7 linked regions of the Homo sapiens genome follow. The protein of the gene in region 7 purifies or fractionates together with the protein of the main gene of each other region. This does not show direct contact. Each region holds a gene or a part of one and is shown on either strand. Other genes may lie near its edges. The genes, in order: SEPHS1, SYAP1, MECR, PAK1, CBFB, THUMPD1 and TAS2R41.

Evidence for each region.
Region 1: the proteins of TAS2R41 (region 7) and SEPHS1 purify together in Homo sapiens (affinity purification with mass spectrometry, with the first as the bait; one large-scale study listed by BioGRID). This does not show direct contact.
Region 2: the proteins of TAS2R41 (region 7) and SYAP1 purify together in Homo sapiens (affinity purification with mass spectrometry; 2 studies listed by BioGRID and IntAct, with this or other methods). This does not show direct contact.
Region 3: the proteins of TAS2R41 (region 7) and MECR purify together in Homo sapiens (affinity purification with mass spectrometry; one large-scale study listed by BioGRID and IntAct). This does not show direct contact.
Region 4: the proteins of TAS2R41 (region 7) and PAK1 purify together in Homo sapiens (affinity purification with mass spectrometry; 2 studies listed by BioGRID and IntAct, with this or other methods). This does not show direct contact.
Region 5: the proteins of TAS2R41 (region 7) and CBFB purify together in Homo sapiens (affinity purification with mass spectrometry; 2 studies listed by BioGRID and IntAct, with this or other methods). This does not show direct contact.
Region 6: the proteins of TAS2R41 (region 7) and THUMPD1 purify together in Homo sapiens (affinity purification with mass spectrometry; 2 studies listed by BioGRID and IntAct, with this or other methods). This does not show direct contact.

Annotation. Positions count from the first base shown.
Region 1 is NC_000010.11:13,334,367-13,338,994, forward strand, and holds part of SEPHS1 (selenide, water dikinase 1), read right to left. Parts: intron 4,443-4,628; coding exon 4,339-4,442; intron 1,985-4,338; coding exon 1,877-1,984; intron 1-1,876. UniProt on the Homo sapiens protein: Synthesizes selenophosphate from selenide and ATP.
Region 2 is NC_000023.11:16,721,825-16,726,452, forward strand, and holds part of SYAP1 (synapse-associated protein 1), read left to right. Parts: intron 1-4,628.
Region 3 is NC_000001.11:29,227,812-29,233,067, forward strand, and holds the start of MECR (enoyl-[acyl-carrier-protein] reductase, mitochondrial), read right to left. Parts: upstream 3,124-5,256; 5' UTR 3,096-3,123; coding exon 2,920-3,095; intron 1-2,919. UniProt on the Homo sapiens protein: Catalyzes the NADPH-dependent reduction of trans-2-enoyl thioesters in mitochondrial fatty acid synthesis (fatty acid synthesis type II).
Region 4 is NC_000011.10:77,466,467-77,471,094, forward strand, and holds part of PAK1 (serine/threonine-protein kinase PAK 1), read right to left. Parts: intron 1-4,628. UniProt on the Homo sapiens protein: Protein kinase involved in intracellular signaling pathways downstream of integrins and receptor-type kinases that plays an important role in cytoskeleton dynamics, in cell adhesion, migration, proliferation, apoptosis, mitosis, and in vesicle-mediated transport processes.
Region 5 is NC_000016.10:67,034,988-67,039,615, forward strand, and holds part of CBFB (core-binding factor subunit beta), read left to right. Parts: intron 1-1,651; coding exon 1,652-1,768; intron 1,769-4,628. UniProt on the Homo sapiens protein: Forms the heterodimeric complex core-binding factor (CBF) with RUNX family proteins (RUNX1, RUNX2, and RUNX3).
Region 6 is NC_000016.10:20,732,657-20,736,612, forward strand, and holds the end of THUMPD1 (THUMP domain-containing protein 1), read right to left. Parts: 3' UTR 1,008-3,956; downstream 1-1,007. UniProt on the Homo sapiens protein: Functions as a tRNA-binding adapter to mediate NAT10-dependent tRNA acetylation modifying cytidine to N4-acetylcytidine (ac4C).
Region 7 is NC_000007.14:143,476,103-143,479,808, forward strand, and holds TAS2R41 (taste receptor type 2 member 41), read left to right. Parts: upstream 1-1,770; coding exon 1,771-2,694; downstream 2,695-3,706.

The sequences.
Region 1 (4,628 bases), on a different chromosome or scaffold from region 7:
CCCGTCTCTACTAAAAATACAAAAATTAGCCGGGTGTGGTAGCATGCGCCTGTAATCCCAGCTACTTGGGAGGCTGAGGCAGGAGAATCGCTTGAACCTGGGAGGCAGAGGTTGTAGTTAGCCAAGATCGCATCACTGCACTCCAGCCCTGGGCACAAGAGTGAGACTTCATCTCAAAAACAAAAAAAAAAAATATTGCTTGGTGTGGTGGCATGTGCCTGTGGTCCCAGCTATTCCGGAGGCTGAAGTGGGAGGATGTCTTGAGCCCGGGAGGCTGAGGCTGCTGCAGTGAGCTCTCATCACACCACTGCACTCCAACCTGGGCAACACAGGGAGATCTTGTCTCAAAAACAAACAAAAACAAAAGCTAGAAAATATTTCACATTGTCATCATTTTATCCAATGCTGGAAGATGTTCTAGACAACAATGTAAATAAAGCCCAGACACCAACATTGTCTGGACTCAGTGCACAGGACCAGCCCTAGGTCTGATGACTGCTGGAAGCCAGCTGTCCAGTGCTCCTTGAGAATCTCAAGACTGGCTTCCTAAGCACAGGTCCCCTGCCCTGCAGTAGGCATCCATCCTACCAAGGCTTGGCTGCAGGCTACGAGTAACCCACACTGACAGAGCCTGCGCCAAGACCACCATGCACCACTGATGACTACAGCCCATGTTCAAGGGCAGGAAAGAGCCTACTGGAAACTCAAGTTTCTCTAAGGCAGGGCAAACTGTTGGGGGCTCTTGGGACAAAAACAAGTACCTGTCTATCTAAATAGGAATTCATCTCTGGTTCAAAGAACAGGTTCAGGCAGCAAGGGCACAGAATGCTAGGCGATGACACAGAGGCGTGAGCCCCTGGTGGCCCTATCCCCCGTCACCATCTACGTCCACGACATCCCCAGCCACAGCAGAGGGAGTGCCCTCTAAGTGCCACGTGTCCCACATCTGTAAGGCTGTGCCTGATTCACACTGAGGCACCATTACTATGGCCAAAACTTTATTTTAAAAAATGCACAGGTCGGGCACGGTGGCTCATGCCTATAATCCCAGCACTTTGGGAGGCCGAAGTGGGTGGATCACGAGCTCAGGAGTTCGAGACCAGCCTGACCAACATGGTGAAACCCCATCTCTACTGAAAATATAAAAATTAGCTGGGGGTGCTGGTGTGCCCCTGTAATCCCAGCTACTTGGGAGGCTGAGGCAGGAGAATCGCTTGAACCTGGGAGGTGGAGGTTGCAGTGAGCTGAGCTTGTGCCACTACACTCTAGCCTGGGTGACAGAGTGAGACTCTGTCTCAATAAAACAAAAAAAAATATACACAAATGCCTTGGGCCGGGCACGGTGTTTCACGCCTGCAATCCCAGCACTTTGGGATGCCGAGATAGGTGGATTACCTGAGGTCAGGAGTTCAGGAACAGCCTGGCCAACGTGATAAAACCCCGTCTCTAATAAAAATACACAAAATAGCCAGGTGTGGTGGTACGTGCCTGTAATCCCAGCTACTTGGGAGGCTGAGGCAGGAGAATTGTTTGAACCCGGGAGGCGGAGGTTGCAGTGGACTGAGATTGCGCCACTACACTCCAGCCTGGGCGACAGAGTGAGACTCCTGTCTCAAAAAAAAAAAAAAAAAAAGTCTTGGTTTCAGTCTACTGGGAAGAGAGAAAGGGAGCAGGTGGCAGAAGTGCAGAGATGACTAGGCCAGGCTTCCTCATTTTAATTTACTGGTAACTGCCAAAAAGTGGAGAGCCAGAAGGAGTGCAGGGAGCCATATGGCCTGGGCTCCTCGCTTTCTAGATGGGAAACCAAGTCTAACCAAGGCCAGAGATGCCACCGGGACAACACGGACCAGGCAGCAGCCGGGTAGCTCCTACTTACCCTGTCGGTCATTTTATTACTGACTCCAAGGAGCATCAGCATATTGTCACATTCCGTGACCCCCATTGCATAGAGGTCACTGAGGACATTGGCACACGCTATCCTGCCCTGGGAAGAGAGGGAAACATGAGAAAGGACGACCGGGGACTTTCCATCTGCAGAAACTGAGTGAGCCATGGAGTGGACTCCACAGAGAACGTGGAGACTTTCCAGGAGTAGCAGCTACTAGGATGGGGTCCTCAGTTTCTATGATTTGCAGACTGGCAACCTTTCCTGCATCACAGAGTCACTAGGCCATTCGTTTTTTCTCAGACATTCCTGTTACCACCTCTTTCTTGTGCAGGACAAAGAATGTACCAGTTTTTCTCCATTCTAAATTTTAGAAGTCTGCAATTTATTTAGATAGGGGAAGGGGTATATGTGCAGCGAATGAGGAGGAGAAGCAAGTTTAGAACCGACAGTCTTGGGGGAAGAGCTATGGAGCGAAAAAGCCTGCAAACAACTCTCCTAAAGAAAAGTTGGAAACAGCCACATATCCCAAACAGATTCTAAAAATGGCTGGCTTTAGTGGTTATAGAGATGGAGATAGTCTTTGTGCACTTGGATTAAGAAATGTTTGCAGCTTAGGCTGGGTGTGATAGCTCACGCCTGTAATCCCAGCAATTTGAGAGGCCGAATCAGGTGGATCACTTGAGGCCAGGAGTTAAAGACCAGCCTGGCCAACATGGTAAAATGCTGTTTCTACTAAAAATATAAAAATTAGCTGGGCATGGTGGTGCACACCTGTAGTCTCAGCTACTTGGGAGCCTGAGGCATGAGAATTGCTTGAACCTGGGAGGTGGAGGTTGCAGTAAGCTGAGATCGTGCCACTGCACTCTAGCCTGGGCAACAGAGCAAGACTGTCAATAAACAACAACAAAAAAAAAACAAAAAAAATTTTTGTAGCTTCTTTTCAAGGATGTATGAGATAAACAGAAAAATCATCTTAAGAAACAAATAAAAAAATACCCAGGGCTGAAGTCATATTGTTTTCAAAAGAAAAAGAAGCATTTCCCAGTAAATGATGTCATTTTATTAGGAACTTTAAAATACAATTCAACAGAAATGTGGTAATGAAGATTTTTTTATTGCCACTGGAGATTTTTAAAAGTTAAGTTGCCCTTATCTAAATTTTTATCTTTTATAGACAATAAAGAGAAAATACAAATTTTCCTTCTGACATAAGGATAATCAAACTCCCAAGTGTTATCACTTCCAGTGGCTGTTTAATTGCTTGCTTTAGGCTTTCTTATACATTCCTGGAGGTCAGCAATGCAGCTCAACAACCATCTGTGGCCACACTTTCAGTATCATCAAGCCAGTCCACAAGGCCAACAGGTGGTCTACAACTCGCACAAGCCAATCGCTAGTTAGGGGGGTGGTGATTTAGCGCCCCTTCTGTTCTGGGTGCTCTCATTTTAGGAGATGCTGGAAAACAATGGACTGTGGTTTTAGCCATCCCTGCCACCTGGTCATGTGGGACCTGGGCTGTGGCTTACCTGCCCAGTCTCAAGAGTATTGCTCCAGAGGAGAAAACGGACAGATGTGCGGAAGAAATATAGGTTTCCAATAATCTGGTATTTGTCACTGGTACCTGAGGGTGAACACCCCCCACGTGGCTGCCTCATGATAAAGTCCCTACAGTGCAGCCTGATCCCACTGTCCTTGCCACACACGAAGAACACCTGGCATTTTATAGCAAACCAGATTTTCCTAGTCTCTCCACTGGCTCCTCCTGGGTGGTAGCAAATTGGGGTTAAAGGTTGGGTGGATCAAAGGGTGGCTGGCTGCAACTACGCAGTAAACAACTGGGGAACACACCTCAGCAGTGTATCATCAGTAGCCAGGAACTTTAACTCAGTGGTCAGAAACCTACTATGTACAGCGGCACATCACACGGTGGTGGGTGTGCAAGTGGCTGGGTTGAGTGAATTAACCAGATATCCGAATTAATGTTTGAGGCATCTAATTGTGATGAGATACTAGCTCCTTAATCTCTTGAAGGAAACATTTAGGATCAGTCCTATTACAGAGGACAGTAACATCTCCAGCCTAAAACACAGGGGTGATGGAGGTTACCAATGTCAAAGAAGAGAAGGTGCAAGAAAGAAGAAAATGACAAAAACAGGCCATTGACATGCTACTAAACAAGAGGTGTTCTTACTCACAGCATGTACTCAGTTGCAACAGCAGCAGAGGGCCTTCCCTGCTTCCTCCCTAATTGCTTTATGCCCAGTGCCAAGTGTGGGCAGGGGACAGGCCTGACTTCAGCAACTGCAGGAGTCTGGGCAGGGTGGGGCAGTATAGTCGGGATATAACAGAAATAAAACCAAAACCCCACAGATACATACAAAACCCCAGCCACAACCCAAACCAAACAAATAAGCCCTTCCAGTCACAAAAACACATCGGCTCACGCTTACCATCATGTAAGGGTCGTCTACGATCGGGTAAATGTAATCTGTGGTTTGAACCAAGGAAAGCCCACCGTGCCTCAAAGGAATGACACAAGTATCCATTCCAATGCCTGTGGAGATGGAAGTCATTAGCATCCAAAAATAAAACGGGAAAGCCATTTCATTTTATATCACCAGTGCTCTGAACAGGAAGAGCTCATAAGATACTTATGGAAACTGCAGGCTGCCAATGAAGCCATGTGTTTCCTATCAAGAAGCGTAACTGAAATAAACGTGAAACATATCCAGCTTAGGAT
Region 2 (4,628 bases), on a different chromosome or scaffold from region 7:
GTGCCTGGCCCCTCTGAATATTTTCTAATAACTGCATTTTTCATATGGATGTGTACTTTGGAGCTAATGCTGCCATCTTTCTGCTCACCAGATTCTCTTTTGATATTTACGGAAGCTGAGGTTAGATGGAAGTACCCACAAACACACACACATTGTGAATTTAAAGCTTCAGAATAAATGAGAATTCTTTCTTTTCTGAAATTTATGTGATTTTAGAAAGTCGTAAAGGTTCTAGTTCATATACAAACTGTGAGAGACAAGAGAGATGATCAGATATTTTTTATTTCTACATATTGATCCTAAGAAGTATATTGTCTTTAAGAAGACCCATTTATGTTTTGAAAACTGGAATTAAACATCTGTGAGCCTGACTCCCAGAGTAGATTCATTTCTTAAGTCTTTTGAAATCTACATAAAATATCAGCCGGGTGCGGTGGCTCACGCCTATAATCCCAGCAGCTTTGGGAGGCCAAGGCAGGCAGATCACGAGGTCAGGAGATCGAGACCAGCCTGACCAACGTGGTGAAACCCTGTCCCTACTAAAAATACAAAAATTAGCTGGGCGTGGTGGTGCGCGCCTATAATCCCAGCTACTCAAGAGGCTGAGGCGGGAGAATCGCTTGAACCCGGGAGGCGGAGGTTGCAGTGAGCCGAGATCGCGCCACTGCACTCCAGTGTAGGTGACAAAGTGAGACTGCATCTCACAAAAAAAAAAAAAAAAATCTCCTGGGAGCCCCATTTGTTCTGCATATATTTGTTGAGTGCCTACCTTCAAGACTGGACACTAAATACTTCCTGGTTCCTGGTGACCTATTTATACATTCAGGCAACTCACCAGTTAGTGGTGGACACCCAGGCCTGCATTCCACTCCCTCACTCAAAACCAAACCTCCTGGTCTCCTGATTCTTGGCCCTCCCTCCTGATAAATTTACAACCTCCGATTGTCACTGTCTCCAAAGGAAGGAACAATTTATAGGAGAACTCACTTAAGAGCTCCTCCCTACCTCCCTCAAGGCCCCATGCCGTTAAGTTGGTTAGTTGGTTTTTGTTAAAGTCAACCAAATTAAAGCTTTGCCTCTACTCTTTCTGAAAAAAATAAATAAATAAAAAGAAAATCTGTACTTCTGAGAATGTTAAATATCTGAATCAGTCACACAGTTTACATCAGTGGGAGGATGGCCAAAGATGAGCTTTGTGATCTTTAGCTTTTTCTAAACCGCCCCTAAAACTATTCCATGCCTAGGAATGGGGAAAGGGCCACCTCCTCCTCCTTTGAAAAGTGCTATTAGTATTGCAGTGGACCTGTGTTAGACTGTCCTCCTTTTCTTCTGTAGGGAAAGTATATTTCAAGTTCCAGCTGCCTAACTTGCAAACTAAGAGGACTCCTAAAGTTAGAGTGTACAGAGGTGACTATGTACCTGCTTTGATGTGGGAGTAAAATATCTAATTGAGTTCTGATAACACACCCAGGTTTACAATGCACAGTCAATAGCTTGGATCCTAGGGCTTATGAACAATACTTTTTAAAATTGGGGATCTCGATTTGAAGAAGAAACTTAGGGACATTGCAGAAAATCTGAAAGGTCTTTTGCAGAAAAGAAGTCGTAGATGTTCCTTATGAGGATAGACCTGAGGCTGTGGGGTAGAAATGACTAGAGAAGTGAGAAGAATTTTCTGATTAGAGTTGAGTAACAGTAATTACTGGCTGCCCTTCTAAGTCCTGTGCTCCCTACCCCTGGAAGTGGGGCTACCTGGATAGGAAGGTCCATTCCCACACTAAGATGCTGAAATTCTAAAATTGTATGAAATATAGTATCTTTGAAAAATTAACCAACTACTTTATAAGAATATTAATTTCCTAAGACTTTGCCACTGTATGCTTATTCTCTTCCTATTCTTGCGGCAGGCCTTAAACTCTACCTTGCTCTGTGTTTACTTTAACAAATTTATGTTTTTTCTGACCTTTGAAGCTCTTCCTACTTTACTTTATTCTTACCATTCCTTTCAGTTCTTCAAGCCCTTGTCAACTTGCTCAACTGACCTGAGGCAGCGTGGGATTGGAGCATGAGCTTGGGATTTAGAGGCAGATAGCCTGTGTTTGAGTTCCCTACACTACTTACTGTCTTTATTGTTATATCATTTGCAAATTACAGAAAGTCCAGTGATCAGAGGCTTAATGAAAGAAACTTTATTTTTGTGTCAGGGAGTCCCCAAGAACCATCCCCAGGTTTGATGATTGGCTAGGAAGACTTATGGGACTCAGCATATAGTTGTATTCATGGCCGTGATGTATTGCAATGAAAGAGTACAAGAATAAAATCAGGAAAGGAAAAAGGCACATGGGGTGGAAGTCCAGGGGTAAGCAGGCACAGTAGAGTCACACAGGACGTGCTTAATTCCTCTAGCAAGGAGTTGTGACAACACGTGTGAGATGCTGTCTTCCAGGGAAGCTCATTAGAGACTCAGTGCCCAGGACTTTTACTGGGGACTGGTCGTATAGGTATCCTCTGCCTACCACATATCCAAATTCCAGACCCCACAAGGAAAGCGGGAGTTCAGCATAAACCACAATGAGGCATTCTTAGCAGTTTAAGAAATGGTGGGAGCCCTCCCGAAATCTAAGTTCCCGGACACCCAGCCAGTGGCCAACCTTGAAAGCAAGCCTTTCCAAGGACAGCAGTCTCAGGCCTGCCATGTTAATGCTTTTCTGCAGAGTCTCCAAGAAATGTGGGGATGGGAGGGAGGTCCCAGGGTCAGTTCCATGGCTCAACGATATGATCAGGGAACCAATCTCTTCCACGCTTCCTCTCCTTCATCCATAGTGAGTTGGTTTCCATCCTCAGGCTGATCACTTCAGGCTCACAAGACAGCAACTGCAGTAGAAAGGGAGGACGAGGACTCTCCCCATAGCTCCCTTTTTATTAAGAAAGAAAATGTTTCTGGATGCCGACTTGCAGGTGTCCCCTTAAATTTCTTGGGGTGGAGCTGTCACATGGCTTTTCTAAGCTTCACGGGACTCTCAGCAAGTATGTGGCAGAGATCCTGACAGAGGTAGTGCCATTACCTTCTTTGGTGTGGACTTGTCAAGATTCATTCTCTGGGGCTGGCCACATGGGCACGCATCAAAATTGGGGTGGTTTTAACAAGGCAGAAGAGATGGGCTACTGGCTGGGCAGCCAGCAAGATCTGCCCCTATCACATAGGACAAATCATTTTTCCTCTGTGAGCCTCAGCTTCCCTTTTTTTGAACTGGGCAGATTATTCCTTCTCCTTGTCCCAGGAAGGTTATGAGAATAAAACATGGCATAATTAAAATGAAGGTAAAATAACTACTTTAAATGTTAGCTGTCGGCCCCCACCTTCCAGCAGGTCGCTAAGTCGTATTCAGATACATTTGAATTTGACTTCCTTTTCTTTGGCGCTACTTCGTTTCAGACCCTCACTTTATGGACTGAAGTGGACATTGTACTCCTGTTACTTCCTGTTAACTCCTATCTTAGTTTCAGTTTTTTCCTAGACAGTTCATAAAAACTGTCTTTGGCCAGGTGCGGTGGCTTACAGTTGTCATCCCAAAACTTTGGGAGGCCAAGGCGGGTGGGTTGCTTGAGCCCAGGAGTTTGAGACCAGCCTGGACAACATAGTGAGACTCCATCTCTATAAAAAATAAAAATCAAAATAAAAACTGTCTTCAACGTGGTGTCAGCTGATCTCTTTGCAAAATTAATAAATCACTTCTTGTCTTTATGGACTTCTTCCCTGAAAATCTCTTGTCATGCTCTCCATCTCACTCCCAGGCCACTCTAATAACTCTCTGGAGACAGTTCTCCCTCCATGCTGCCACATCTGCTTAATGAATAATCTTGTTCCTCTTTTTGTCTTTGATTCTCTATTTATTTGTTTTGCTTTAGAGATGGACGTTCCTGGAGGGCAAGAACTTGTGCTTTCTCAGATATTCAGTGTGTTCAGTAAACTCCATCCATGGAGTCATTAAAATCTAAGGAATGCAATGATTATGCTAAAATACCAGTTTTTAAATGACAGTTCTCCCTTGGAATAAAAATCATTGTTTGAATTCAAAATATGTTTCTGAGGAAGGGATAAAAGGAATTTATTTCCAAAAGAACCCTCTTCTTTTGGAACTTTAGATTTGTTTCTCTGACTGCAAAGCATGGTTTTGTTCCTGGACCAAACTGAGGGTCAGGCTGCTATTTCTCGTGGCCCAATAACAAGATGCAGGTCAACTGGGAAGGAAGAGAGTTTTTATTTCTGTAAGTGGCTCCAGGGAGAAGGCCTGGAAATTATCACCAGACCAACGCAAAATTAGAAAGTTTTCCAGAGCTTATATACCTTCTAAGCTATACGTCTACGTGTTAAGTGTGCACTCATCTAAAGACATAAGTGATTAACTTCTTTTAATCTATAACTAAGGTCTGAGTCCTGAAGACCTTCCTCTGGAGCCTCAGTAAATTTACTTAATCTAACTGGGTCCAGGTGCTGAGGTGATTACCCTTATCTTGTCTCCTGCTAAATCATGGAGGTTTGGGGAGTTCCTTCAGACCCCCAATCAACTTGTTTGTGGAGGCCTGGGGAGTCTCTTCAGACCCCCCAGTAAAACTTACTTAATCGT
Region 3 (5,256 bases), on a different chromosome or scaffold from region 7:
CAAAGAGAATCCCAGTCTCTGGCTTCAGTCCATACGAGAACAAGTAAAGCCGCCTGAATCTGGGTCAGAAAGTAAAGTTGCCCTTCTGGAGCACGGAGAGAATTACTGCTTGTCTGACAATCTGTATCCACAAGGCAGTGGTTCTCAAGCCTGGCCTGGGCAGCAGAGTCACCTGGAGAGCTTTGAAAAAAACAGAAGCTCCAAGCCATCCTAGACCTACTAAGTACCTCAGGAGTGGGGCCTAGGAATACATACGGTAGTTTCTAAAAGCACTACAGGTCAAGCTGGGTGTGGTGGTACACACCTGCAATCCCTGCTACTCAGGAGGCTGAGGTGGGAGGATCCCTTGAGCCCAGGAGTTCAAGACCAGCCTGGGCAACATGGCATGATCTCATCTCAAAATAAATAAATAAATAAATAAATATATATATAAAATAAAAGCTGTCTGATATTTTATGTGGGCAAATACAAAAAATAAAAGCACTACAAATGGTGACTGTGCTGTGAAGCCAAAGTTGAATATAATGCTTTGTGGAAGTATCTTTTTTTTTTTTTTTTTGAGAGGAAGTCTTGCTCTGTTACCCAGGCTAAAGTTCAATGGCGCGATCTCGGCTCACTGCAACCTCTGCCTCCCAGTTCAGGCAATTCTCCTGCCTCAGCCTCCCGAGTAGCTGGAACTACAGGCTTGCACCCCCATGCCCAGCTAATTTTTGTATTTTTAGTAGAGACAGGGTTTCGCCATGATCTGCCCATGTTAGCCTCCCAAAGTGCAGGGATTACAGGCATGAGCCATCGCGCCCGGTTGGAAGTATCATGTTTTGAACTAGAGGGAAATTACTGAAGTTCCACAGAAGGACATAATAGAAGCTTTTTTTTTTCCTAAGTGGCATCTGCAAACAGACCGGTCTGTTCCAGCTTCTCTGGCTCTCCAAGAGGAGGGAATCAATTAGGAGGCAACTGCATTCAGCTGAACTTTCCCAGGCCTTCCTCATCACCACAGCAGAACTTAATAAAAGGTTCACTTTTTTTGGAAATTTAGATTTAGATTGAACTAACATTTTAGGAGCACCTGTTTTGTGGCAGGTCCTGCTGCAGACACAAACTACAAGTCCGTGGGAGAGACACTACATGGTTCTCATTTGGGGTACATTCCTGGAAATGGAGGAGTGTTCATCAGAGCTGTACCAGTTCCTTACAACGCAGTCCTTAGTGAGATGTCTTCCCTGACACAATGCTTTATTACCTACGATCAACATACAATTTGGAGTTTACTGACTGATGTGTCTTCTTGACATTCTTTTCGTTTCTATAATGCGGGATGTGGCTAGGCTGATTGGATGACCTTGAATTTATCTGAGGCTTATCCTCACCACCTGTCAAAACATCTAGCTTGATTTTTTTTTTTTTTTGAGACAGAGTCTCGCTCTGTTGCCCAGGCTGGAGTGCAGTGGCGCAATCTCGACTCACTGCAACCTCCGCCTCCTGGGTTCAAGCGGTTCTCCTGCCTCAGCCTCCTGAGTAGCAGGGATTACAGGTGCCCACCACCAAGCCCGGCTAATTTTTTTGTATTTTTAGTAGAGATGGGGTTTCGCCACGTTGGCCAGGCTGGTCTAGAACTCGTGACCTCAGGTGATCCACCCGCCTCAGTCTCCCTAATGCTGGGATTACAGGCGTGAGCCACCGTGCCCAGCTCTAGCCTGAATTTTAACCATTAAAGTAATACCACATTTGCCCATCCTTTGGAAAATAATCAAACTATTTGCTGGGAATCAAAGAGTTAAAAAGAAGGTACTGCACAAGAGTATGCAGGTGTTTTTTGGTGGAGAGCACTACATAGATCTTAGGTGATTACCACTATGAACTTTGTCTGTACTGTCTCCATTTTTTAAGATGATGAAACCGAGGCTCAGAGAACCTCAGTAACTTGCCAAATGCAAAGCTAGGACAAGGATTTGACCCCAAGTATTTTGATTCCCAGACCTGTGCTTTTGCTTTAGCTCCACTTCAGTGGCCCCAATAGCCCTTCTGAATGGCTATTTATGTGCAGATTTACAATGGTTGGCAACTGACATACTATTTTTATCAACCACGTGCAAAAAGCATGAATTAAGATCCAACAGAATTTTAGGAGGAGGACAAAGTCATAAAAGTAACGAGAAGTTGAATGACTTCTCTAAGACCAAACAGCTACTAAGACGTTGAGCCTGTATTTGACCAAATATAGATACTTGGGTCTGTATGGCACCAAAGCAGCTCTTTTTAACCAAGCCAAGATGCATATACGGTGCAGTGGAGAGAAACATGAGTTTGGAATCAGAAGCCATGGATTCCAGTCTCCTGTTCCAATCACTTATTAGCGGTATCACTCTGGGCAAGTCCCTTGCCCTCTGGAAACAATGATCTATGACCTACTCTTTACTGACACATGAAGATCCAAATGGATGTAAAAGTATTCTGAAAACTTCTTCCAAATAATAATAATAATAGTAAGAACTCACGCAGGTCAGTCAGACATAGGTTGGAATTCTGACCCTGTCACTTACTGGCTGTGTGACCTTGGACGAGTGATTTTACCTCTTCTGCCTCAGTTTTCATCTGCAAAATGGGGATAAATCAATAACTACCCCAAAACATTGTTGTGACAATTAAATGAGAGCATCCATTTAAACAAGGGATTGCCTGACACAATATTCGATCAATAAACATCAGCCATTAATACCCTGATAATTGCCTCTCGGGTCTTCAGCTACCTTCAAGTACGGTCTTTCTGACCTACCAAAAACGCCCTGGGCTTCGGCTTCGGTTTGCTATTCTCTGCCCCCTTCCTCGGACCCTGTCCCTCTCTTCCCAGTCCGCAGCTCGTGTTAAAGCCTTCCAGAAACCCCAGTCCCCTTCCCCGGCTTCGGCGCCGTCTCTTACTCGACGACCTTGGCTGGATCCCCGTGGTGCCCATAGACAAGCGCCCGGACCCGGGCAGGCTCGGCGGATGCGGAGTAGGAGGAGGCGGCAGGTCCGTGACAGCCAGAAGCTGGGAGCAGCCCCCGCCACTGCCGGGCGGGGGTTCGCACCCGCCACAGGGTACTGCAGACCCACATGCTCGCTCCAACCAACACAGAGCCTGACGCCCCGGCTACGTCATCTTCCAGCGACCGCGCGCCTGCGCCCCGCCCCTGCCCCGCCGGGTGACCACTCCCCCTTGGTCCCTTTGAAGGGCGTTTCCTTCCTTCGCTGCCCAAGTGGTGGCGCCTGGCTAGACTGCGTGTGGGCCCCGGAGGGATCCGGGGGTGCGGAGCTTGCGAGGCCGCCAAAGCTGTTGTCTCAACAAGGAGAGTCTGGGGCTAGTCCAAAGTCGTGTCTACAGCCTGCAGTTTGGTGTTTGATTTGGAGGAAATATTTACTCTCCCTGGCCTCAGTTTACCCTTCACATAATATATTGAGTGCTCACCGAGCCAGGCTCTTTAAGGTATTATCTCATTTAATCACCACTACCATGTAACGGCATAGGGAGGCAAAGCTTACTTCCCTACACTGAGGAGAGTACACGAAAGCTGCTGTGGAGGCAGGAGTATGGGGCTTGGAGTTAGAAAACTTAGGTTCAAATCCTAGCCCTGCCACTTCCTAGCTTGGCCACCTTGGGCAGGTGAAACTCTGAATTTTTCTCATCGGTACAATGGGGATAATATGCCTCCTTCCGGATTGTTGTGAGGATTGGATGAAATAATAGAGGAATGCTATTGTGGGTGGGAGAACGCATTGTAAAAAACTCTGTTCAGATGTAAGACAGGAATCACAAGGAGAAGGGTCCTCTCTCAAAATGCTCACAGTGTAGAAAGGGATTAAGTGGAACACTGGAAATGCCTGTAAAAAGGTGTAGCCCTATGAAGGATCTAGTCTGATTTTTGGTGTAGGGAAGACATGAACATTACTAAAACCCCAGATCGAGCTGTGGCTCGTGCCAGAGTGCAATGCTGTAGTCTGAAGAGAAGTGCTCTGGGATGGGGTGGGATGGGGTGGGGGCTCTTGGAGGAGGTGCTGTTAGAGCCAGCCCTGTGATTCAAAATCTTCTGTGTGCATAAAAATAATCCGAGGTCCCATCTTAGACCTACTGAATTAGAATCTTGCGGATGGGGGTTCCAGGAATCTACATCCTTACAAGCTCCCAAGAATATTCTGATGCAGGTGTCCCAGGAAACAGGTTTTAAGATACTGAGCCAGGGCTTTGAAGGATAAGGAAGAGTTCCTTTCCTGGATTTTATTGACTTGAAGCTTGCCATCTCCAAGCCTTTCCTCTGAGGAAGAGAGCACAGCAAAGTACTGTGAGCTAGATTTGGACAAACCTGGCTTTATGTCCTAGCTCTGCCATTTTCCAGCCATTTGATTTCGGACAAGTCACCAGGCCTCTCTGTGTCTTCACTTTCTTACTCTTAAAATGGAAGGAATACTAGTTATCTGTTTCAAGATTGTTGTGAGGGTCAAGTGAGATATTATCCACTTGAAGCATTTAGTACAATGCTTGGCACATGGAAGCATTTGATAAATATTATCGGGGGTTATTGTGATTAAATGAGAAATATCACACATAAAACCCTCAGACTAGGGTCTGGCTTATAGTATGTGCTCACTAAATGTCTGTACTTGTTTTTATTATTAGAGAAAGTTGGTGTCCCATGGTGGGGGAAAGGCTTGGCCCCACATTTATGTGCCAGCACACACACGATGACCAGTCCTGCTTACCCTTTTCCCCAGTGACACATAGGCTTACTTGAACTGGGAAGTACAACGTAACCTTCTGTTGTAAGACTCCCTAGGTGACATTGAGATGTCGACATTCTCTTCTTCACCAAATTGGCTCCTCTGAATTTCTGGGGAGCCCAGTCAGGAAGCCTGAAGAATCATCCAGCAAGTCCTCCTCCTTGGGGCTGGACTTTAGCCTCCTGTGCATCCCAATAGCCCTCACTTTTAGTCTAGGCCATCTGGGTTCTTGCAGGGGCATAGTTTGAGAACTACTGACTGAGGGGTTCAAGTCCAATTTCCTGGACTTGCATTCAAGATTCTTTGCACTCTGACTCCCACACTGCATTTCCAGCTTCATCTTCTCCTGTTGGACCGTGCATAGCCTGTGATCCAGCTGCATCTGATACCCGTCTTCCCCAGTGTGTCTTGTGCCTTTATTCAGGCCACTCCTTCTGCCTGAAATGCTGTTCCCTGCCTCGGAAACTCCAGGTTCAGATGTCATTTCTTTGATGTTTCAAAACT
Region 4 (4,628 bases), on a different chromosome or scaffold from region 7:
GTGGCACGCACCTGTGGTCCCAGCTACTTGGGAGGCTGAGGCAGGGGAATGGCGTGAACCCGGGAGGCAGAGCTTGCGGTGAGCCGACATCGCATCACTGCACTCCAGCCTGGGCGACAGAGCAAGACTCCATCTCAAAAAAAAAAAAAAGTCTTCAAATGACAGCTTGATGTCTCTGCTCCTAAATTTCCTCATCTGTAAAATGAGTTAGCCAACATCAGTCTAGCACATTACAGCTTCCAAATTGTTGTGCATATATCCACAGAGCTTACCTGATTCCCTACCACACCGCAAAAGTCTAAGACGGCTATGGTGTAATAGAAAAAGCATGATGAACTAAACAATCATAAGAACCTGGCTTCAGATCTTAGCTGTGCTGTATAGCCTCAGCAAGTCAATTAACCTCTTTGTGTTTTCTTCTATCAAATGAATATAAAACAACACCTGTCCTAGCTAACCCAGGGGATTGTCCAAAGAATAAAGTCAGATAATATCAGTAAAAGTATTTTGTACATTATACAAAAGGCCCTTCATCATCTGGGCCCTGCCTCCTCTCTGCTCTCACGCCTCCCCACTTTACACCCTATCTTCTAAGCATACTAAACTACACAGGGCTCCCCAAACAGGCTCTCAAATCTTCTGCTCACATATTGCTCTCTCTTTCAAGAGGGTCCATCATCTCCCCTTTCTTCTCACCCCTCCCTGACTGTGCTTCGTTAACCCCTGATCATTTTTCAGAACCCATCTTAGATGTCACCTCCTTTAAGAATGCTTGCCAGGCCACCCCCATTTCAAGTGCAGCAGATGCCCTTCCTCTGTGTTCACATGGCACTTGCACTTATCTCCATATTTTTGTCATTTTTTGTCTCAATGTAGTGTAATTGTCTATGCACATGTCTGTTTCTCCCGGAAACTATAAACCCAAGGGTAGAGGCTATGATTCATCTGTTTATTCAGAACCTATGACAATGCCTGATGCATAATATGTATTTAGCAAATGAATGAACTTTAAATGGCAATAAAATATTACTTTTCATATAATACTTACATAAGACATTTATGCAAAACATTGTTAATATAAGGCAGTGCTTCTCAACTTTGCATATCAGAATCACCTATAAACCTTTCAAAATAGAGATGCCAAGGCAACTCTTTACATCTTCACAAGTAATTCAAGTGCATAGCCGAAATTAAAACCACTGCTACACACAATCATAGTCATAAAATTACAAACTACTCTACCTAACATCTATATAGCTCAGTATCTTACAATTCACTTTTACATATATTATTAATCTTCACAAGAATTCTGTAAGTTAGGTATTATTTCTTTCAAATGAACAAATAGAGATTTAAATAAGTGTCCAAGTAGCTCTTTGTCTAACTTCAAATTTTGTGCTCTTCCTTAAACCCTCCCTTGGTAAGTGCAGTAATACACAAATCAAGGGTTCCACCAGTGAGGAAGACATCAATCTTAGCTTTGTGGGAATCCAGGAGGAAATAAGGAAAGCTGGACCTTAAAGATATAGGCAGGCAGATGAGGGTGGAAGCCATGCATATACTGTCATTGTCATTTGCCATCCCAAAAGATTCAAAAGGCAGATTCTATAAATTAGAAAATGCTCTTGCCAGCCTCAGTTAGTACTTAACAGTCTGAAAGGGAAAGGGATATTGGAGAAGGCTGGAAGTAGAAAAGTAATAAAAGAAAGCAGCCCATAAACAAGAATGGATTTCCCAATCCTGCATGCAAATTACCTAACTCTGACTCCAGGAACAAAAGCCAAGACATAATGGACTTAAGAATTAGATGAATTCTACAGTCAATCAATACCACGAAAACTCATGAGGGATGAATGAACCTCTGGTTCTTTCTAGACTTACTACTACACTATTCCTCAAGAAGGGATAATCCGGAGAAGCCTAGCATATACATGACTTTCCCCATCTCAAAAACTAAAAGAATGGGAGAGAAGAGGAAGATATTCATGAAAGAAAAGGCTTACAAAAAGGGTAGAAAAATGTAGCACATTAAGTTAATAAATTTACGATGGCACAGGGAAATATTCAGGCACAAGTGATTCCAAATACTGGATAAAGCCTGATCTGGCAGCTTCAGTAAAGAGGTATTATCTTCTAAGTCTGCAACATCATGACCATCTGACATAGAGTTTTATCAGCAATTATCCTTTCTAGTTCAAACTGTGGACTTCAGTCAGGGTTTTCTTAGGGAGAAGAAGCTAAAGAGATTAGGAACCAATTTAAAAGAATGTGTCTAGTGCCCCAAAATTTAGTTTGATAGAGTTTAAAAGGCAATATGTTATAGTGGCAAAGTAAAGTACTACACTTAGAATTTTAAAATGTGGTTTAAAATCAATATTCAGGCATTCATTAATGATGTGCCTCTGAGCAAGCCAAGACTTCTATTAATATGATCCTCAGCCTGCTAACTCGTAAAATGGGAATACCTATCTCATAGGGCTGTTACGAAGATTGAACAAAATAACATCCAGGAAAGATGTTATTTTTCCTGTATGAATGATAAATGTAAACGAATGTAAATCTGTCTTCACCAAGCCTTCTAATACACACACAAAAAAAACATACCAAATGGAAACTTTAACTCTCACTGCAATATATTTACTTGCAAAACATTCCTATATCCTCTGTGCAGAAACATTAAAAGCAGCCTCTGTACTGAAAATAGCACATAGCTGCTGGAGTCAGGTGCACATGGACTAGAATTGTTGGTCTGCCACTTACTTGCAGCAAAACCTTAAATAAGCTCCCTTTACTAGTATGACTCTCAGGTTTCCTCACCTATGATACAGAGATACCAGCAATCATCTCATAAGGTTATTCTGAGGGTTAAAAAGAACATGTTAAACATCTCATATAGGGCCTGGTACAGAACAGGTATTCAGTAACATAAGCCATTTTTAGTAAGCTTACCACCACCTAACAACTAACAAGCAAATTATACTTTTCAAAGATTCCTTTATAGTCATTATTTTAATTGCTTCATGATCCTGTAAACTAGTCGTAGCAACTATTACTATCCCCATTTTACAGTTGGGACAAAACACAGAGATAAAAATTACTTCTACAAGGTCATGCAGTAACATAGACACTAAAGAAGGTCTCCTAACTTTTCCAGGGTTTCATTTTCACCCACTACAAATTACAACATTACCCCTTAGAAATTAAAACATCTGTGAAGAGACTTTTTTTTTTTTTTTAATAATGGGCATAGAAAATGACCCAGAAGGAGCAAACACTGGTGTGGGAGAATGTTTTTAAATTTTTTATTTTCAAGTTTGAATATACTGACTATTAATTTTGAATCAATGCATTTTTCCTTTTATTTTTAGTTGATATGTAATAATTGTACATATTTATGATATTTTGAGATGTATATAATTCGTAATAATCAAATCAGGATAATTAGCATATTCATCACTCCAAACATTTATCATTTCTTTATCATAAACAGTCAAAAGCCTCGTTTTTAGATGCATATTGTTTATCGCTTTTCAAAAATAAACAATAAACTGTAGTGAGATGTATTCTTTTGATAACCTTAAACTTGTCTCTTTACTATGCCAAAAAGAAATATTTTTCTCCCACTTTCTGGTTATTATTTAGAAAAATAACATGGAGAGGGATCAGAAAATTCATTAAAACCAGCAACAACAGAATTAATGTCTCAAATTGGCAACTGCTGATTCCACCTTGATTTTTGTTTTAGTTTTCCCCAACAAAGCCCATGACCTCTTAAAATTTTTTAAAAGTCTGCCTGTCAAAATGATGCTTGTTTGACAAATTATTCCTAAACTGAGGGAAACAAATAGAAAGGCAGCTTTCTCCCCCCCTTTATGATCATATACCACCTTTTTTCATCCCTCTATTTCATCTCTTCATTTCAGCACTTATCATGTCATATTATCTCTAGCTCCTTAAAGACTTGGGCTGCACTCTTGTATATAGCTGAACATCCTGCCCAGCACAGGGTCTGGCACATGGTGGAGAAGGACTCATAATTTTATAGTAAACGGATGAATAATTGAAGCCACTCTCCCAGAAGGAAGCTAGGAAAGGAGAAAACTGGGCATGGTATCTTAGGGCTAATAAGAAAGTGAAAGAAACAAAGCATTTTAAGAGCTTGACAAGGAAGAGAAACCTTTGTGTGGAGTCAAACAGGCCCTATATAGCTTTAAGTATCACCAGAGAAAGACAAAAACCACAGGAGACCAGGAAGAGACAGTTTTAAGTTAAAAGACTCAAAAGTTAAGAGTGCTTATTTAGACTTGCAAAACCAACTTGCAAATTCAAAAGAAACAATCCTGGCTTGGAATATTGCAACAGCAGTTTTCAGGTGGTGGTTAAAACAAACAAACGAACAAAAGACTAGGCTAAAAATTCTTGCAGGCTTTGGTTGGAGACACATAAAGGGAAAAGCTCAACCTAAAATGAATCCCCCAAAAATGTTAGGATCCCCTTGGATTTGCACATTGGACCATGATTCCTATTCATTCTGAGAACGGTTCTTGAGTAAAACCCCAATGTCGCAGCTGGCAATACATAGAATTAAATCATCTTACATTATTCATTCAACAAATACTTGAGTGCCT
Region 5 (4,628 bases), on a different chromosome or scaffold from region 7:
TGGGCAGTTTCCCTCCCAGAAACTTTTTTTTTTTTTAACTAGTGTTGGGGGGTTTTTTGTTAAGATTTATGCTCGTAGTACATGGGAAGTTTTTTTTGTTTTTTGTTTTTGTGATGGAGTCTCGCCTTGTTGTCCAGGCTGGAGCACAGTGGTGCAATCTCGGCTGACTGCATGCAACCTCTGCCTCCCAGGTTCAAGTGATTCTCCTGCCTCATCCTCCCAAGTAGCTGGGATTACAGGCGTCTGCCACCATGCCCAGCTAATTTTTTGTATTTTTAGTAGAGACAGGGTTTCACCATGTTGGCCAGGCTGGTCTTGTACTCCTGACCTCAGATGGTCTACCTGCCTTGCCTCCCAAAGGGCTGGGATTACGAGTGTGAACCACTGCTCCTGGCCTGAAAGATTTTTTAAAATGATGTTGTAATATTGATGTTAGTTCAGTTTCTATGGATATAAAACATTTACCACATGAAAATGGTACCCCAGTTGATTAGGGAAATGCCATCAGAGAGGTTTAGAGATTTAGCATTTAGGTTGACAAGTGTACCGACAGTGCCAGTAATAGAAATAGGAAGTATAATTTTTACCTCTAAAGAATCTAAGCTGTTAACCATCAGGGGAACTATTGGATAGCTAACTTGGTTGATGGCTTTAAACAAATTGCCCCAAATGTGAACCTCTTGATTTGAGATGAAGACTCTATGCATGGAAACCAATTATGCTTCAGAACTTAATTAGTAGAATAAACCAAACAAAAAACTTTTTCTGGTTTCAGCAAAGAAGAGTTTACATTTAGATGATGAAAAATGTATTTTTTCAAAAATGCTTTTACTTCTTTTTTTCTTAATTTCCTTTGGGAAAGGGGTAATGTCTTTGTTTTTTGCCTGAGGGAAATATAGAGGTAACTTGCTCAAGGCCTACATAAAATGACACTTTATTGAAGTGGTTTTAGATTGTTGCATCTGTTGAGCTCTAACATCCAAATCTTTTATATTTATAAATCTAATCTATAAATATTTATTAGATGAATACTTTTCTCTTTGTTGTAGTCAGACCAAGTTCTCCTAAAGTCAAATGTGAGAAAAGACATATTTTTAAAAATCATCTAGGGTTTTAGAGAGTACTGTCACATCCCATGCCAATGTATGGTTTATCAGAGGAGAGACAATTCCAAGTGCATTTTTTATGTACTGCCTGCTATGCAGTGTTTCAGCAAGGGAAATCAAGGAAAATTAAAGTGTCTCATTTATACAATTTTAAATTGTGGTATTCTTTAAAATTCAAAATCTTTAGATTTTGAGTGATTTTTACATTTAAAAATAGAAGTTTTTAAATGCAGAGATGGATAGTGGCTTCTGGTTAGACATTAGCAGTGTGAGATCCTAACGTCAGCAAAAAATGACCTGAAAGAAAGTATTGATTCCATGTCTGATTTTATACTTAAGCAGCCAATGGCAAATGTCCTCAAAATGGAATCAGATGTTTGTAACTTAATACTTAAGAAAAATGATGAGTGCATGTTTTTTTTTACTTTTAAGTATTCTCTGTGCTGCCTGGCTTAAGACATAAACTGATGTAAAAATAAATGACTGCTTGCATAATTTATGTAATGTCCTGCTCCTGATCCTGTTTGTATTGATTTTTCTAAAAGGCTTTTGTGGCCACAGGAACCAATCTGTCTCTCCAGTTTTTTCCGGCCAGCTGGCAGGGAGAACAGCGACAAACACCTAGCCGAGAGTATGTCGACTTAGAAAGAGAAGCAGGCAAGGTAGGAAACATTTCTTTGCAATTTAAAATACTGTGGGTTGTTTTGTTAGAGATTATCTGGTAATTTACATTTTAATAAAGATCACAGATCTGATTATACCAGCATATGCTCAGATTTGTTTTCATTCCATGTTATAAGGATGTAATATAATTTTTTTTTTTTAATGGCGTTTCGCTCTTGTTGCCCAGGCTGGAGTGCAGTGGCGTGATGTTGGTTCACTGCAATCTCCGCCTTCCAGTTTCAAGCGATTCTCCTGCCTCAGCCTCCTGAGTAGCTGGGATTACAGGTACCCGCCACCACATCTGACTAATTTTTGTATTTTTAGTGGAGATGGGGTTTCACCATGTTGGCCAGGCTGGTCTCGAACTCCTGACCTTGTGATCCGCCCACCTCTGCCTCCCAAAGTGTTGGGATTACAGGCGTGAGCCACTGTGCCCGGCCAATATAATTTTTTAAAACCACTGTTAAACTTTTGTATCACTCCATTCCTAATTTCATGTACATAATATTTGTCATAGAACATTCTAACCCTTAAGGAAAGTAACATAACAATTTCTTTAAAAGTTTGAGGAGATATATTTTGTTTACAAAAATATATGTAAGTATAGTGCTATAAAAATAAAACAAGAGGAAAACGGAAAAAAGCTCTCTAGGTTTAAAAATTAATAGTATTTAGAAATAGCTCATAGGTAACTTTCTAATTCCATTAACAGCAAATTTACATTTGAGAAAAACAATGTGAAAACTTTAACTTGGAAATACTTTTTTTTTGTTTTGAGAAAAAGTTTCTGGGAACATGTCTTACAGTTTCGATGTTAGAAGTTTAGGTTAAAGATACAAAAATATAGGTAAAATGTTTAAGCTGAGAGCCTTATTTCAGGTCTACGTTAAATGTATTATGATTTTGGTAATTTTTTTTTTTTTTTTTTTGAGATGGAGTCTCCCTCTGTTGCCCAGGCTGGAGTGCAGTGGTGTGATCTTGGCTCACAGCAACCTCCACCTCCTGGGTTTTAAGCTATTCTCCTGCCTCAGCCTCCTGAGTAGCTGGGATTACAGGTGTGCGCCACCACGCCTGGCTAATTTTTTTGTATTTTTAGTAGAGACAGGGTTTCCCCATATTGGTCAGGCTGGTCTTGAACTCCTGACCATGTGATCCACCTGCCTCTGCCTCCCAAAGTGGTGGGATTATAGGAGTGAGCTACTGCACCTGGCCTGGTAAATTTTAATGAATAGCATCTTGGATTGGTTGATTCTTGATTGAGAAGTCAAGGAGTTGACTTCTAGAATAAAATTTTTAAAGAAGAAACCCTCTTTTAAATATAGTTTTATACTCAAAACACCCTTTTGGATCCAGTTTCATACTTTTTTTGTGTGTGTTTGTTTTGCAGTGTGTTTTTGTACCCGTTTCTATCAACTTACTAAATTAATTTTCTAAGTGTCATCATGAATAGCATAACCTGCCACATTTATGTAAAATGTGAGAAATGTCTAAATATTCCTTTGAGAAATATTTAATTTAATCTTGTGTGTATATATATATATACACGTATATATGTGTATATATACGTATATGTGTGTGTATATATGTATATATGTGTGTGTATATACGTATATGTGTGTATGTATATACATATATATGTATATATAAAATGAATTTTTTGTTTTCTCCAATTCTGTAGAATTAGATTTGATCTTTTGTGCGTGACAAAACAATCTTTGGATTAGAAAAGGGAAAACAGATTATAAGATTTAAAAAAATGAGTACTAAGCAAGCAGTTTGCTTTCCTGTGTATTAGCTTGTTTGCTTGGAAAATTAAAAGTGAATGTTCCAGATTTTACTATTTGGTAATTCTTACACAATATATAAGGAAGAATTTGAGAAGTCCTTGTACGATTATTGGTTTTTTTGTGCTTCTGGTGCGTGTATGTGTGACTAAATGAAGAAATTATTTTTTTTCTTGTTTGAATACTTCCTTAAAGTTTGTTTAACATGGTAGCTCAGATACTAAAGACGTAAACCAAAAAAAAAAAAAATTTGTTTTTTGTCAGCTTTAGCCCAAAACTATTTTAAGACTTCAAGGGCAACATCTCAGTGTTACTGAAGTCTTCCGGTATTTAATAACTAGTAAATGGGTTGTTAACTCTACCAGAAATTAAGTTTGCTTGAATTAATTTAATGATACTGCTTCACTAGTGTGAAGACCACATAATCCTTGGACTTAAACCATTGAGATGTTTTTAGTTATATGACCAAAAATAACAAAAATGTGAGATGGTTTATTCTAGTACAGTCATGTGTCACTTAATGGTAGGGATATGTTCTGGGAAATGTGTTGCTGGGTGATTTTTATCATTGTGTATATATAGAGTGTACTTACACAGATCTAGATGGTATAGCCTACTACACACTTAGGCTATCTGGTATAGTCTGTTGCTCCTAGGCTACAAACCTGTACTGTACAGCATGTTACCGTACTGAATACTGTAGTCAACTGTAACACAATTTGGTAAGTATTTGTGTATCTTGATGTATCTAAACATAGAAAAGATATGGTAAAAATACAGTATTTAAAAAATGGTATACCTGTATAGGGCACTTACTTTGAATGGAGCTTGCAGGACTGGAAGTTGCTCTGGGTCAGTCAGTTGAGTAAGTGGTGAATGAATGTGATTCTGTAGATTATATAAACATAGTATGCTTAGGCCGCACTAAATCTATAAAAATTAAGCAATTGCACTGCAATGTTAAAATGGCTATGATGTCACTAGGCAATAGGAATTTTTCAGATTCATTATAATCTTACAAGACCACTGTCATATATGTGATCCATTTTAGGCTGTAACGTTGTTAAAGCAATAC
Region 6 (3,956 bases), on a different chromosome or scaffold from region 7:
AAGGGATTATTACTTTCTTGTGGCAAAGCATTTAAGTGAATTTGCACTAAAAACCCCCAAGATGGAGCTACACTGTCACCCTTCCTGTACAAACAGAACAGTTTCTGGTGTCTATGAGATTCAATAAGCTTAGGCTAAGATAATCTAGACTTTAAAATTCAGTCTCAGAGTTTCATGCAAGCTCTCTCCTATTGCACTGACAATTGGAAAAACGGAATCAAATGTCTCATAACGTTTTTCCGTCAATTAGGTGGAATTTGTTCAAGAACTCCCAAAGACAATCATTGGGAGAATCAAACACGTTTTAAGAGACCAAGAATAGGGACGAACATAGCTTGATAAAAAAGCTGAAGGGTTAAGTAGTAATATGATTGCTTTCTCGATTTGTTCCTGATAATTCAGTGACTACTCTCTTAAAATGTTTAAGATCCTTCCTGGTTTAAGTTTTTGTTTTCTACTTAGCTAAAAAATTAAAAAGTAAATAAAAGTCTAAAAATATATGGATGAAAATTGTTTCAATAACCAAACTGACAAAGGTAATGATGGTTTCTAGTGTTTAAAATTGCAGGAGTCAAATGATTACTTAGAAAAAGAAAGTGCACAATGAATCTGTATTTCATCTATCTTGTGCCTGATTAATTCAAAATAAAGATATATCCTAAATGTTCAAGACAATTTCTTCTACTTAACAACTTTATGAGACCAAACTTCAATATATTAAAATACTGTTAAAATGAGTATAAATAATTCAAAAATCAGTAAGTGAATTTAATGAAAGTAAGTACTGTATTACTATGGCTCATTTTGAAGCAAATTAACTGTAAAATATCTGAAACTTGGATTTAGAAGTATTAATTATTCAAGGGTAATAATTTTTTAATGTTTTTTAGGCTCATGTCCATGGCATTTTATAATTTGACATATAAACATATTTTATGATATATATATACTATAAAGCAAGAGATTTACTAAGAGTCAGAAAGAAAGAAAAAATATTAGAACACCAATTTTTAGGGAACAAATTTATTTTGATTTTTCTGAAAATATCAGGAACTATGAAAAAACAAGCTCGATTTCTGGCCGTACCAAAAGCAAAATACAAGTAAAAATAACATTTGAAAACCAAGTTTAACCTCAGAGAATCATGTTTTAAAATACAAAGTTTAACATTCTTTCCTCTATGGAGCTAAACAAGTTTTCTAAACCATAAGACTGCAGTTTTTTTATTTTTTTAACTGACGTAATTTTTTAAAAGAAAAAACAAAAGGGGAATAAAAAGCACTTCCTACCCTGGAATCCCGTCATTTATAAAATAACATGCTCAAATGTCAGTGAAAATAAACAGTTGATAAACCTGAAAACAAGTCTTTTAATGAGTTCAGGTTACAACCGAACACAGGATTTTGTAACTGGGAAAGAACAGCTTGTGTAACAACCGATTCTTACCAAATACAAATAAATATAAAAGACAATTTAAAAACAAACTGTATAATCAAAATCTTTCCGTAAAATAGCAGCTTTCACAAAGTAAAAACAATTTAGTTCCACAGAGTTGTATGCTCTGTAGGCATATGGCCAATTTTCTTCCGAGTCCTTTTGTCTTGCACTATCAAAATAGAATCTTTGTCTTGGAGCAAGTCTGCTGAAGAAGGCACCAAAATCCTATCCTCCCTATTCCCCTAACTGATATTAATAATCCTCTTATCAATCATTGCAAGGTAACTTCAATGTCATTAAGTATTAACATTCTAAATATGTAAAGCTATAGAAGGAAGGTCCTGCCTATTCTCTTTGCCCCTCTCAAATCATTCTAGTCTGGTTTACCAAACAGAACCACCAGCTAGGAGGATAAAAATACATTCCCATGTTCACTAGCCATTAAATGAACATAGCCACTTGTGCAGGAAGCCTAACATTTTTAGGATTTCCTAACTTTTTAAAACTTAAGGATAAGTCCATTTCTACAAGCTAATTTTACAGCTCCTTAATATTCTTAATCTGGACAGTTAATTTTGCAGACTTTGTTGGTGTCTGCCTTTTCAATTGTTTTACCCAAAAAGAGGCCTTGAAAAAACTTTCAAATTCAGGAAACCCCTAAACCCCTGCAGAGAACCCTCATGGTATGTGAGTGTGAGCACTAAGTTGAAGAATACTCTTATTTCACAGAAATCTAGGACTGTCAGACTAGGGCTGAGTTCATTCTCTTCCTTCAGAGACAAAATTTCAAGCTGAGCAGATTCAGAGACAAGGGTTCCTCATAGGTTATATACTAGTGCTGGGAAAAGGAGAGAAAATGCTATTTCATTGGGTCTTGTGGTTCCTCCAGCCGGGTTAGAACAAGATTTGAGAGTTGCACCCTTTATTTTCAAGGCCAAGTGGCTGCAGAAACATTTCAAGAATTCCTCTGGCAAGGTGGCAAGTCAGTTTCCTTTTAGATCTAAGAGTCTTGTCGCTTTAAGAAAAATTTTTTTCCCCAGAACCTTTCAGAGACTTGTCCATTTGTTCATGTGATGAAAAACGTCTGCAAAATAGGCTACTTTCTGTAGTCATTTTTCATTTCCAAAGCACTCAGCAAAAGCTGGCTGTTTTATTGTAAGTACTCTGGCAATTCACCTTTCAATTCAAATATCCTGTAGAGAACGCTTCCTCTGAGAAGCCACTGGATGTCTGTATGGTGCAGGAGGTTTATGTGCTGTCTGTCCAGGTTTTTGTTTTGGGTGTTTTTTTTTTTTTTTAACATTTTTGCATAAATGGGTCTTTGATACAGGTAACCAGTTTTGTAACATTATTCAGAACTTCACTGTATCTTCAAGTTTTTGATATCAGCATCTCTGTGGAGAAAGCAGTGTGCTATAATGTCAACATCAGGATTTCTTTTTTTTTTTTTAATAACGCAAAATGACTTATGGAGACAACCACTGATGGGGCACCAGGAGTGTAGATACCAGACCTCTGGTTATCAGATATGATGTCACAACATTATATATTGGCCTTTGTTCTGGCAGGCTCCTAGCAATAGAAAAAGTTTTCTTTGAATTTCATCATTTACAAATCTTACAAATGCTACAGCATGACAAATATTAGTGAAACCTGTTGACTCATCATCCTGGATAGAGAAGCTGCTACTTTTCAGTTAATGACACAAAACCTTTTTTGCATCATATGACATATCATCAGTAAATCAACTTATTGAGAATAAAGTCTCTTCAACTTTGTACTGCATCTTGCCCCAGCATTTTAATGTTATTAGATTCTCACCAACCATGCATATTTTCCTTTCCTGAGATAAGTTCTGCTACTAAATAATTTGCTTCTTAAACCTTTTGACTAAAGGTGATTTCTGAACAAAAGCCTTACTGTTTTTGATAGTCCAAAAGCCATTTGAAAATAATGAATATCCTTTCTTGTCAAGTGGCTGTGATTTATTGTTACAATTGCTAGTTTTGTAAGTTGCATGTCACAGACAATGCACAATGGGACAGGAGAGCTTGGACTGAGTCCACATAATACCCTTGAGAAGTAGCTTTCTTTATTAAGACAGAATTTCTTTGTGTCCCTTGTTGCACTAGTATACTGAAGTATACTCAGAAGACTGAAGTTCTTCATCACCAACCTTTTCAGAAATGTCTGTAGTTCTATGCCTAAAATGGTTCTCGTCTCTCTCACATCTTGCCTTCCAAAATTGCGACACTGGACTGTCAGCTATATTACACACAAATGTTAAAAAAAAAAAAAAAAAACAGACATAAACAAGAAAATCACAAAAGTACAAAAACTTCACTAAACAATTCACTTCTAACCTACATGATCCACATTTTTGCAATGTTTACAACAAAGTGGCAGGCAGACAGCTGAGCTGTGGCATGTAAAAACTCCTTCCTTAGAATGAAAACTTCCCTCTGATTTTCTACTTCACAGGTAGTTCACTCCCTTAAGTCAGCTGGCACTGCAGAAGA
Region 7 (3,706 bases):
TTACCAAAAAGATGAAGGATAACAAGTGTTGGCAAAAATACAGAGAAAAGCAGCTCTTTCAGTCTGTTGACAGGAATATAAATTATGGAAAACACTATAAAGATTTCTCAGAAAATTAAAAACAGACCTACCTTATCCAGTAATTCCACTTTTAGGTGTATATGCAAAGGAAATGAAACTAGTATTTTGAAGAGATATCTGCACTCCCATGTTCATTGAAAATTATTCACAATAGCCAAGACATGGAAACAATCTAAAAGCCCATTAACAGATGAATGAACAAAGAAAATGTGGTGTGCATACACAATGGAATATGATTCAGTCTTAGAAAAGGCGATTCTGCCATTTGCAACAACGTAGATGGAACTGGAGGACATTATGCTATGTGAAATGCTCCAGAGACAGAAATACATATATTGTACGATCTCACTTACATGTGGAATCTGAAAAAACAAACCCACAGAAGTAGAGAGTAGATTGGTGGTTGCCAGGGTTCTGGAAGGGGAAATGGGGAGATATTGGTCAAGGGGTATGAAGTTTCAGTTATGCTAAGTGAACATGCTTTGGAAACCTAAGGTATGGTAGTATGAGTATAGTAAACAATACTGCACTGTATACTTGAACTTTCATGAGAGGGTAGATCTTAAGTGTTCTCACTACACATGAAGAAATTGAAAACAGGAATTATGTGAGGTGATAGATATATTTTAAAAGAAAATATTTTTACTTTCAACATGGTCTCATAGGGACTTCTTTTTGATGTTGGTGTTAGACAGGACTCACATATGCCTCGGGTATCTCAGGGTGGCAGACAGACTGTAAAGTGGCCCTGCCTGTCCCTCAACCCTGGTGTTGGGCCTTTGTGTAACCTCCTTCTTTTGAGTGTTGTTGGTGACAGTGACTTGCTTCTAGCCAATAGACTATGGCAAAGGTGATAGGCTGTCACTCCAATGATTGTGTTATGTTATTTAAGACCCCATCTTGTTAGCAGACTCCCTTTAGAGACTGCTGACTTGACGTGAGTGGCCATGCTGAAACAGCTTACCTGGCAGAGACTGTGAGAGGCCTCTAGGACCAGAGAGCAGTCTCCCACCAACACCCAGGAAGAAACAGGGGCTCTCAGTCCTGCTTCGGAAGGCCCCTCAACCACATGATAATGAATTCTCTCACTGGAAATACAAAACCCGTTTACACCATTATCATTTACATCTCAGGATTCATGGAGGATCTAAGTAGAGATCTGGATGGAGAGGTAGACGAAGTGTTTGATTTTGAAGCGATTTGTGGGCAAAGGCAGTAAGGTAAGCATGGATGTGTAACAGGGAAGTACTGAGACAGAATTCTTTGATGTCACTATTTTTCCTGTGTATCTCCTATACTTGTCTCTATATTTAAAGTCTTAAGAATGTTCTGATGGGAAGAGGAGTGTTCATACGGCCTGAGGATGGAACTCAGTCACAGAGACCCAGAAAAATCATAGACATTGATACTAACCATGGCAGCATGCAGGAAAACTGGACAAGGCAAATTAGGGTAATTTGCAGGCCTAGTGGTAACTGACACTAGGATAAATTTGCATCCTGTCTGAGCCAAGAGCACACCTCTCCTCTTTAGCCTGAGCATCCTCCTCTCTAAGTGAGCTCTGGTTCAGATGCAGAGCCTGACCACTCTTTAGCACTCCTAGGAAAGATTAAAAACAGGACTGTGGCTAGGGGCAGGGAGGAGGCCAGGGACCAAGGCACTCAAGTGGGGACTGCAGGAGGGGTCAGAATGCAAGCAGCACTGACGGCCTTCTTCGTGTTGCTCTTTAGCCTGCTGAGTCTTCTGGGGATTGCAGCGAATGGCTTCATTGTGCTGGTGCTGGGCAGGGAGTGGCTGCGATATGGCAGGTTGCTGCCCTTGGATATGATCCTCATTAGCTTGGGTGCCTCCCGCTTCTGCCTGCAGTTGGTTGGGACGGTGCACAACTTCTACTACTCTGCCCAGAAGGTCGAGTACTCTGGGGGTCTCGGCCGACAGTTCTTCCATCTACACTGGCACTTCCTGAACTCAGCCACCTTCTGGTTTTGCAGCTGGCTCAGTGTCCTGTTCTGTGTGAAGATTGCTAACATCACACACTCCACCTTCCTGTGGCTGAAGTGGAGGTTCCCAGGGTGGGTGCCCTGGCTCCTGTTGGGCTCTGTCCTGATCTCCTTCATCATAACCCTGCTGTTTTTTTGGGTGAACTACCCTGTATATCAAGAATTTTTAATTAGAAAATTTTCTGGGAACATGACCTACAAGTGGAATACAAGGATAGAAACATACTATTTCCCATCCCTGAAACTGGTCATCTGGTCAATTCCTTTTTCTGTTTTTCTGGTCTCAATTATGCTGTTAATTAATTCTCTGAGGAGGCATACTCAGAGAATGCAGCACAACGGGCACAGCCTGCAGGACCCCAGCACCCAGGCTCACACCAGAGCTCTGAAGTCCCTCATCTCCTTCCTCATTCTTTATGCTCTGTCCTTTCTGTCCCTGATCATTGATGCCGCAAAATTTATCTCCATGCAGAACGACTTTTACTGGCCATGGCAAATTGCAGTCTACCTGTGCATATCTGTCCATCCCTTCATCCTCATCTTCAGCAACCTCAAGCTTCGAAGCGTGTTCTCGCAGCTCCTGTTGTTGGCAAGGGGCTTCTGGGTGGCCTAGATGGCATGGTTTCCTTATCTAGACCCCCGGAAAAGAAAGGTGAGGATGGCAGAGCTGTGGCCCACTGACATGGAGGTGTTTTCATAGGTAGATGAATACTGGGTACTGTTATGGGGCTCCTCCTCTGGGAAGCGGAGGAGACAAGGAAATCTGGGAACTCTCTGAGCATGCTTCCCTTCTTTGGAATGTTATAAAGATGCAGTCCCATGGATCCCAGAGAGCCAGTATTGCCCAGAAGTTCAGAATATGTTAATATGATGTCGTGCTACTCCTTACGTTTGTACCCCTTTGTTATCTGGAAGGCTTCGATTAAAAGTGTTGATTAACTGTGCCATCGCATCTCCACTGCCTTTCAGAAAGTTAAGAGCAAATATTTGCCTCTATGGCTGAACTGAGATGTGGATAGTGAAGCGACAGCCTTCTTGAGGACAAATGTCATGGTTACTACGAGAGCCCCAAGGGACAGGCAGTTGTGGCAGGCAGTGGCCTGGGCTGTGAGTTCTGATTGCCCTTTACTGCATGAAGATACTTTGTCTCCACACAAACTTGGATAATCTGGTTTTAATTTTATTAAGTTTACTGGAAGGTTTCTTTACACCACCCAGTTTCTTTTCTCATTAACATTTCTGACTTCAATTTTCTCTTCTCTGAAGTCTGAGTAGTAGCCAGACTTTTTTCTTGTTTATCATTCCTTTAGAAAAAGACACATTGTGACTTTCTTGTCTTCCTCAAGCATATGTCACAGAGTCACATCTGCATTGAATAAACATGTACTTTTCAATCTGAAAAACAGACTCAGGAATTTCACTGGACTGGGAGTGGTGACGTCCGTAATCCCAACACTTTGGGAAGCTGAGTCAGGCAGACTGCTCGAGCTCAGGAGTTCAAGAGCAGCCTGGGCAAGATAGCGAGACCTCCTCTCCACTAAAAATTCAAAAAAATCAGCCAGGTGTGGTGGTGTGCACCTGTGGTCCCAGCTACTCGTGAGTCTGAGGTGGGAGGATCACTTGAG